3 separate regions of the Homo sapiens genome follow, and regions 2 and 3 are each linked to region 1. Evidence: fine-mapped expression QTL. A gene starts in region 1. Each other region holds a variant in brackets. All regions are shown on one strand. Distances are from middle to middle.

What was found. PIP is the estimated chance that this variant, and not a neighbour inherited with it, causes the effect.
Region 2: its variant is fine-mapped to the expression of LRRC20 in whole blood (TOPMed, PIP above 0.99). The same link has a PIP of 0.9 or more in prefrontal cortex.
Region 3: its variant is fine-mapped to the expression of LRRC20 in fibroblasts (GTEx, PIP above 0.99).

The regions. Positions count from the first base shown.
Region 1 is chr10:70,381,198-70,383,697 of GRCh38, reverse strand. It overlaps LRRC20 (leucine rich repeat containing 20), which reads left to right and starts at 1,073. Exons shown (of 5, transcript NM_001278212.2): 1 at 1,073-1,149. RefSeq lists enhancers at 569-668, 1,199-1,398, 1,243-1,862 and a silencer at 799-1,168.
Region 2 is chr10:70,298,004-70,300,847 of GRCh38, reverse strand. It overlaps LRRC20 (leucine rich repeat containing 20), which reads left to right. Exons shown (of 5, transcript NM_001278212.2): 5 at 1-1,873. Among named protein-coding and RNA genes, the nearest start is that of NPFFR1, 15 kb to the right of the region's middle. The variant C/G (reference allele first, on the strand shown) is at 1,098.
Region 3 is chr10:70,005,712-70,008,555 of GRCh38, reverse strand. LINC02636 (long intergenic non-protein coding RNA 2636) reads left to right here. Exons shown (of 5, transcript NR_184066.1): 1 at 1-801; 2 at 887-1,099. Among named protein-coding and RNA genes, the nearest start is that of LINC02636, 2.2 kb to the left of the region's middle. The variant C/T (reference allele first, on the strand shown) is at 1,239.

The sequences.
Region 1 (2,500 bases):
TGCATCAGCTGATCCCTGCCGCCATCACCACAGGTGGTTCTCCCTGTGCGTCTCTTCTGTGTCTCTTCTCTTACAACGACACCAGTCTCAGTGGATTAGGGGCCCGCCCTACTCCAGCATGACCTTAACTCATTACATCTGCAACGGCCCTACTTCCAAATAAGATCACATTCTGATGAACTTTAACATATTGTTGGGGGTGGAGAGGGCATAAGTAACCCTTAACATCCATCGAGGCCCAAGGGAATGTGTGTTCTTTGACTGCCTAGACCCCCTAGAGGCGGAATTAAATATTCTTTTTTTTTTCTTTGAGACAGAGTCTCACTCTGTCCACTCAGGTTGGAGTGCCCATCTCGGCTCACTGCAACCTCCGCCTCCCGGGTTCAAGCGATTCTCCTGCCTCAGCATCCCGAGTAGCTGCGGCTACAGGCGCCTGCCACCACGCCCGGCTAATTTTTGTATTTTTAGTAGAGACGGGGGTTTTGCCATGTTGGCCAGGCTGGTCTCGAACTCCCGACCTCAGGTGATCCGTCTACCTCGGCCTCCCAAAGTGCTGGGATTACAGGCGTGAGTCGCCGCGCCCCGCCCTCAAGTCATATTTTATAGATGAGAACATTAGGATTGGAGACGCAGGGCCGAGACACAGGGCCTTGCATATACTAAAAACCTCAATGGGCACCCGAAGTCATCATAGGAAAATTTCCCTATGCTCCATGTTCACGTGTTTCAAAGTATCCCTGATCTGGCTAATTCAACTCCATTCCCTCGAGAAAACCCAATCTGGAGCCCCGGTCCTAGAGATCCTGGGATGTACTGCGCGTCCCACTCTGTATCTCCGCCCCCTCAGGCGTTCTCCCTCTAGAAGCAGCACACAAAGCGGTTACTCCCTGCGGCCGGGAGCGCGCGGGCTGCCCTTCCGCGCGCCACCCCCGCGCGCGCCGCTCCCCCACTGATTGGCTGAGCGCATCCCGAGCCCAGCCTGCTCCCGCCGCGGCGCCGGTCCTGGCGCCGGGATTGGCGGAGTGGCCGCGCGCGCAGATCCCGCAGCCCCGCGCGCCCCGCCCCGCCGGCTCGGAACTCGCCTGGGGCGCCGCCGGCGGCGGAGGGAGCGTGACTGCGCTGCGCAGGGCGCTAGGAGGCATTGTCGCCGTAAGTGGAGCCAAAAGCGGCCCGGAGCGGGACCACACGCTTCTTGCCCCGCAAAGTAAATGTAGTCCGAGGTCAAGCGTTGCAGGGGCTGGGGGAGAGAGGGCGAGAAGTGTTCCGATTTTTGCAGCGTCCCCTCCCCTCCCCCAGGTCACCCGGTGGAAAAGAGCAGCGGTGCACCAGCGGAGGCTCTGGCGGTGCCAAGGGGCTCGGCATGCGCGGGCTCTTGCTTGCTCACTGCACCTGGACCCCGATGGTTCAGGGGAGTGGGTGCAGAGGTGCCAGGGAATAGGGAGCTCGGAGAACCGCTCCCAGGCGGGCCTCCATTCCTCGCGGGAGGCGCCCTTGCTTGGAGAGGCTGCTGTGCATTTCGTCCCCGAAGCGACACTTTCGGGGTTTGCTTCCGCTCTGGGGAGCTGCAGACGCCTGCTCCAGAGCGTGCCTCTCGGCCTCCGGGCAGCGTGGGAGCCCCGGGGCCTCTGCGATCACTACCATTCTTCCCTCTGCCAGCTTTATTCTCCCAGTCCCCGCCTGCCGGGCCAGCGGACGAGGTGCCATTGGCTGCAGGCACCGGGGGTGAGGCGGATCCTGGCACGCGGGGCTGGGGGACCCTTGCCTGGCTACCGCGCGTAGTGCTGGAGGCTCAGTCCGAGGATGCCTAGATGTTAGCGAGGGAGCACGCGCTGAGCTTCCCGAACCCCATGCCACAAAAACAAGGCGCCAGCAGGTCCCGCTCACGTCCCAGCGGGCTTCTTTCCCTGGGGTGGGGAAGTGGGTCAACTTCGTTCTGATCTGAAGGGGGGTTTGGGACTATTTGGGTCGCTCCTCACCTCCCCACCCGCTCCCCGGCTTGGCATGGTCCAGAGCCCGGGCTGGAGCCAGCGGTAGGGCCAGCTTGCACACATGGCTCCGGAGGCTCCGGTTGCCCATCCGAGCCCCTGCCAGGCTCTAACGTTCCCAACTGACAACACCAGTAACTAAATATAGGAGCAGATGGTGGGGACGGGCTGTCGCAGCGGCTCCTTTGCAGAGGTCTCCGGACTGCAGATAAGGTAGAGTTATTGATGGTAAGGGCTGGAGTCAGGGGGCCAGGTCAGGGTTTAAGCAAAAATCACCCCTCCCCCAGCCAGCCTGAGTCCAGGTGAAACCAGGTTATAGGGACAGGAGGGCTGTATTGCCAGCTCCCCCAAAGCAGGACAACGTTTTTGTCTGGCATTGAATTTATTACATCCAAACTTCCTCTCTACACCTGTTTGATTACCTACTGGTAATGCCTTGGTGTGGGAAACATGTAATGGTTCGCAAAGTCCTTTCCCAAAAGTTACATATCAGTTACTTCCCACAATAATCCGGT
Region 2 (2,844 bases), 83 kb after region 1:
GCGGCCCTCTGCAGGGCCCAGTCTTCAGTCCTGTGGTCCCTGGACTGGTGGGAACCTGAACTAGGAGTCCTGGGAGAGCTGTGGTGGGAATATGGGCTGGCACTGCTGCAGGGCAAGAACATTCATGTAGGAGCCCGAGGACCAGCAGGCTGGGAATGGGGAGCAAGTCACGTCAGCTCTGTCATTCCCCACAGTTAACAAATTGGCGGGGTGGGAAGTCCTGAGTGCTCCGTCCCTCTAGCATCACTCCTGAGCTGCGGGAGAGGTGGCCCAGAGAACAGCAGAGTCAGTTACACCTGCAGCTCTTGTCTAAAGTGATTAGATGGCCACCCTCACCACTGTCCAGTCCAGCAGCAGCCTGGCTGCCTTGTCATGGCCTCCTGGGGGCAGAAGGCGATGTGGACCACGGGATTTGTAGCCAGCCAGCTCCCAGGCCAACGCCCAAAGCCCTGATGACCTGGTTCTTCTGAGGCCCTCAACCTGGCATCTTAGGGTATGGTCAGGCAACAGGGTGACCAGCTGTCCTGGTTTCCCAGGACATGGAACTTTCAATGCTAAAACTGGGACAGTACCCAGCAAGTGGGGATGGTTGGTCCCCTACCAGGAGAGGGCCTGGGGCTCTTGCTTCCCGAGAACGCCTGTGGCTTGAAGAACCTTGACTGCTTGGTCCTCAGGTATCTACCTCCCACCTTCTCCTCATCTGTGGAGCAAGCCAACTCAGTGCCCCAGACCCCACCTGATCTGCATCTTTGTTTGCATCTCCAGAGACACCTGAGGCCCCAGAGCTTGAGGCAAAGCCAGGCCGTCCAAATCCTGTGTGCCGTGGACGAGTGGCCACTTTACTACTCCTAAGGCTAAGATGTTGAGAGCTCAGACCACTGCTCAGAGCAGTAATCCCTGCTCAGAATGCTCCCAGTTCCCTCGTCCCTGCCCAGGTCTCTTGTCTCTTGGGAAGGAACTGATAGGTCGGGCCATTGTTGGGCCATCACTGAGCGCTCAGTATCTCAAGAGACTCTGTTCATTCTGCTCGTATCCCAAGGCCTGGTTGGTCAAACTCTGGGCAAAGGGTTTTCAGGATGAGGAGGTCAAGACAGGAT[C/G]TCCAGAGCTACCGAGTTCATCTGTGGGTGTTGGGGGCAAGTGGGGGCTGAAGTCCTGTGCAGGCTGCGCTGGCCCCACCTGCCTTGTGCCCTGGAGTGGGGTTTCTCCTTGTTGAAGAAGAGGCATCCTTCTCTGATGTGCACAAACACAATGTATGACCAGAGCCTTGCAACTCAAAGTGTGGTCTGTGGACCAGCAGCGGCAGTGACACCTGGGAGCTTGTTAGGAATGCAGAGTCTAGGCCTCACCCTATACCTCCCGACTCAGACCCTGCATTTTAGCAAGACCCCCAGCTGATTCCTATAAGCACTTTAGAGTTTGAGAAGCAAGGACCTAGGCTGGGGATGTCCTCCGAGCAGAGGGTGAAGTTTCTCTCAGTTCTCTCCCTGCCACTTCCAGGGATCTGAGCCTGTGCTCAGCCTCCTCCCTAACCCACCCTGGGAGACACTTGGCCTGTTAGATTGTTCCAGAGTCTGCATGGCACTCCTGAAGAAGGGAGTGTGACCTGCAGTCACCAGGAGATGAGGGTTAGGTGTGCCCAGCCCTCCAGACCCGGCCTTTCTGGTTAACCCCTGCATGCCAAGCTGCCTGCTGCCCCAGGTCCTCACCTCAGGCCTTTGAAGGGGCAGCTTCTGGAAGTTGTTTTCTCCTCTGCTTGGAGAGTTTGCCCTTGTCTGTCTTGGAAAGTGTGGGCAGCCACAGATGCCCCCAAATCAGAGCTCACAGTGAGTGAGCCCCTAAGCTTCAGTCTGCAATAAAGAATGCATTGGTTTCATCTGCCTGGTTGGTGTTTGATTCATTCTCACTGTACAGACCTCCTATAGCCTGGGCGTCAAACCAGCCCACATGCAAGAGGGGTGCCCTCTTGTTGAAAGCACGAGGTAAAGAAGGCTAGAACGGGATGAAACGTGGATTATTCACAGGTGGGCACAGGTGCAGCCAAGCAGAATTGGTGCGTGCCCCCCAGCTGCGTTACTGCAGGATGGCTAAACATCAGGGGGAGACTGTGTATCTGGGAAAGGATGAAGAGACCCACTATCTCCACATTTCTCTCTTACCAGTGCCAGAAATTATTCCCTTAGTAATTTGTTCCTCTGAGTCCATGGTTCTCAAAGAGGGATCTCTGGGCCAGCAGCATCCGCAGCACCAGGAAGTTAGTTAGAAATGCGAATAGTTGACTCCACCCTAGATGTGCAGAATCTGAAACTCGGGGATGGGGCCCAGCACTCTTAACAAGCACTCCATGTGGTTCCGATGCCTGCTGAAGTTAGAGAACTACTGCTCTGGGTTCAATGTTAAAGTCAGGTTTTGCTTTTCTTAAGTCTGAGAGGCCAGCTTAAGTTTGCCTTGAGTTTTAGTCCAGATGCTCCATTGTTTCTAATTATTATTATTATTATTACTATTTGAGACGGAGTTTCACTATTGTTGCCCAGGCTGGAGTGCAATGGCGTGATCTCGGCTCACTGCAACCTCTACCTCCCAGTTCAAGAGATTCTCTTGCCTCAGCCTCCCAAGTAGCTGGGATTATAGGCGCCCACCACCATGCCTGGCTAATTTTGTATTTTTAGTAGAAATGGAGTTTCGCTATGTTTGTCAGGCTGGTCTTGAACTCCTGACCTCAGGTGATTCACCTACCCCGGCCTCCCAAAGTGCTGGGATTACAGGCATGAGCCCACTCCCAGCCGATCCATTATTCCTTTTATTTTATTTTTTATTTTTGAGACGGAGTCTCACTCTGTTGCCCAG
Region 3 (2,844 bases), 380 kb after region 1:
TATCTTTTTGTTTTTCTCTTTTCTCAAATAGGAAGTACTGTCATTCTGACAGCAGGTTCACCCAAAGGGTACACCTTGACTTTGTAATAGTATCCCTGACTGTTCTGTTAAATTTCAAAATGAGAAAACTCTTTTTCGTCTATTGACAGATAATGTGCACCCAAATTAAGTGTGAGTGGGGGTCTGACTGTATGTCTAAAGTGTACAGGCAGAGATGAATGTGTGTGGCTTTAGCAGATCCACACTCATCCAGGGATAACTGGACCATGGGGGCAGGGTGGGAGTGGAGAGAAGTCATCATAGGATGGTAATCAGGTGCTTGCAGGGAGAAGAGAAGGAAAAGCAGATGAGTGAACAAGGGCAGATGGTGCTGGAGAATTCCATCAAGTGGGCATCAAGAAGGGACTGGAGGTTAAAACCTTTGGGATAAAGAAGAAGAAAAAAAGACAAGCTGGTAAAAAGTAAGGTCTGGGGGGTGGAGGCAAGAAGGGGAGTTGCTAAAAACTCTAGAATAAGCAGTAAGACATCTTTCAATAAAACTGCCCCTTCCCAGATGGCACCTGGGCACTGTTTGCTGGGCACAAACATGGCACTGTTTCCTAGGAGATGATTCCTCCAGTTCTTTAAGGTAGTAATGAATGACAACAAGAAGTTACTTCTCTATGCTACACACGGTGTAGAATCCAGAGCCTGACTGGCTGTGACGCGCCCATGGTGACACCAAGGGGACTCTGCATGGGCACATCCCGGCCCTCCTCCCTGCATGTTCTCCAAGCCAGGTCTTTGAAACCTCCAGTGATGGTAGGTGTTAACTCCTACATGTGGGTGGTTGGCTAGTGACCCCAAAGAGCCTCTGAGAAACTTGGAATTCCCCTTCTCTTTCCAGGGAATGACAGAATCTGGGATGATTTTCTTCTGTTTCTTATCTAAAAAAACAACAAAAAGCTCAGCATACACGGACTCACACAAACCTTTTGCTAGAGGCAGCTCTGTAGACTTAAGACGCTGTCATTTTTCAGAAGAACCCAGCTTGCTTTGGAACTACAGTCAGCCCTGCAACCCACCCTCACCTTGGACCCTGCTGCTGCTGTCTGTAAAGGTGAGTGAGATAATACCTGCTGCTCAGCTCAGGTCCCTCTGTCCAACAACCTGGGTCTGCTGTTGGGAACAAAGAACAGGAGAACAAAGAAAAACTCCCAGCGGCCTTACGGACCACACGGCTTTGCAGCAGACTCAGC[C/T]GAACAGTTGTCGAAACACCTGTCACCAGTATGTGGTTTTTAATGATGAGCTGTCGCTGCATTTCTGAGTTGCTCTAGTTCTTACTTATGTTATTGCATGTGTTATATCATTTAAAAATGCCACTTAGCTCATTTTGAAATGGAAGATTACATTTTGATCAGTTCTGGGACCTATTTTAGTGGCATATTTTCATGATCTGTAGGAATGTTATTTTGTTCGTGATCTTTTTTCTTATAATAACTTTATATGGACTTTGATGTGCATGCTTTTCTGTTATTCGATTTCATGCAAAATTAATTTCCTAAACTTTTGGAAGAAGCTATGATGCAGAGTGGCTTTGCTAACTTGCTAGAGCTCCCTCTTCAAGGAGTGTTTTGTGAAGTGTTAAAAAATATAGTGATGTCCTTGCTGAGATTTTGTGGCTCTGTTCATCTCCTCTATTTTCATGTGGATCTTCTCTTTTCTTCACCTCCATTGTCCTGCAAGGTGGGGCCCTGTCCTTAGAGGGAGGCAGGTCAATTTTGAGAATTCACGGAGAGTTGACTGCCTCTGGTCCTTCATATCTTACTGGGGACCCCTTGCACTCACTAGCCATTGGATTGTGTAAAGCACTCTCTTTCAGGTGCTAAATTAAAACTGACCCATATACTTTCCAACCAATGCCTACTGGATATTTTGGGGGTCTCCTGTTTTCAGGTTTATTATGTGTCCCATTGTTTTTCTCTGCTCTCCTCTGCACCAATGCTAGTGCAGGTCTTGTGGCTACTAAGGTTTTGTCCCCAAGTGTATGTTGATGTTGTGGGGCTAGCTTAACACCCAACATTTTTTTCCAATTGAGGTATAATCTACAAACAACAAAATGTACAAATCTTAAGTGTTATGTTGAGTGAGTTTTGGCAATGTGTGCACTCACCTTGTCACCTGATTTTGAGATAAATATTGTCCACAGTTTTTTTTTAAATAGAGATAAAATTCACATAGCAAAATTCACCATGTTAACCATTTAAAAGTGTATAATTCTGTGGTTATTAGTATATTCACAAATTTGTGCAATCATTACAACTATTTAAATCCAGAGCATTTCTATCATCCCAAAGAGAAAACCCATACTCCCTATTGCCCCCCCAGCCCCTGGCCACCACTAATCTGCTTCTGTCTCTATGGATTTGCCTAATGAGGACATTTCATGTAAATGGAATCACACAATATGTGGCCTTCTGTGTCTGGCTTCTTTCACTTAGCATAATGTTTTAAAAACTCATCCATGTTGTGGCATGTATCAGCACTACATTCCTTTACTTGGCTGAATAATATTCCATTGTAAACATATACCACATTTTATTTATCCATTCATCAGTTGATGGGCATTTGTCCCCCTGCCCCCTCACTTTTGGGCTCTTATAAATAATGCTGCTATGAACATTTGTGTACACATTTTTGTGGGAATGTATATTTCATCTCTCTTGGGTATATACCTGGGAGTGGAATTACTAGGTATATGGTAACTATATCCTCTTGAGAAACTATCAGACTGTTTTGCTAAACTGGTGGCACTACTTTACATTCCAATCAGCAGGCTATGAAGGTTCCAGTTTCTCCTCATCA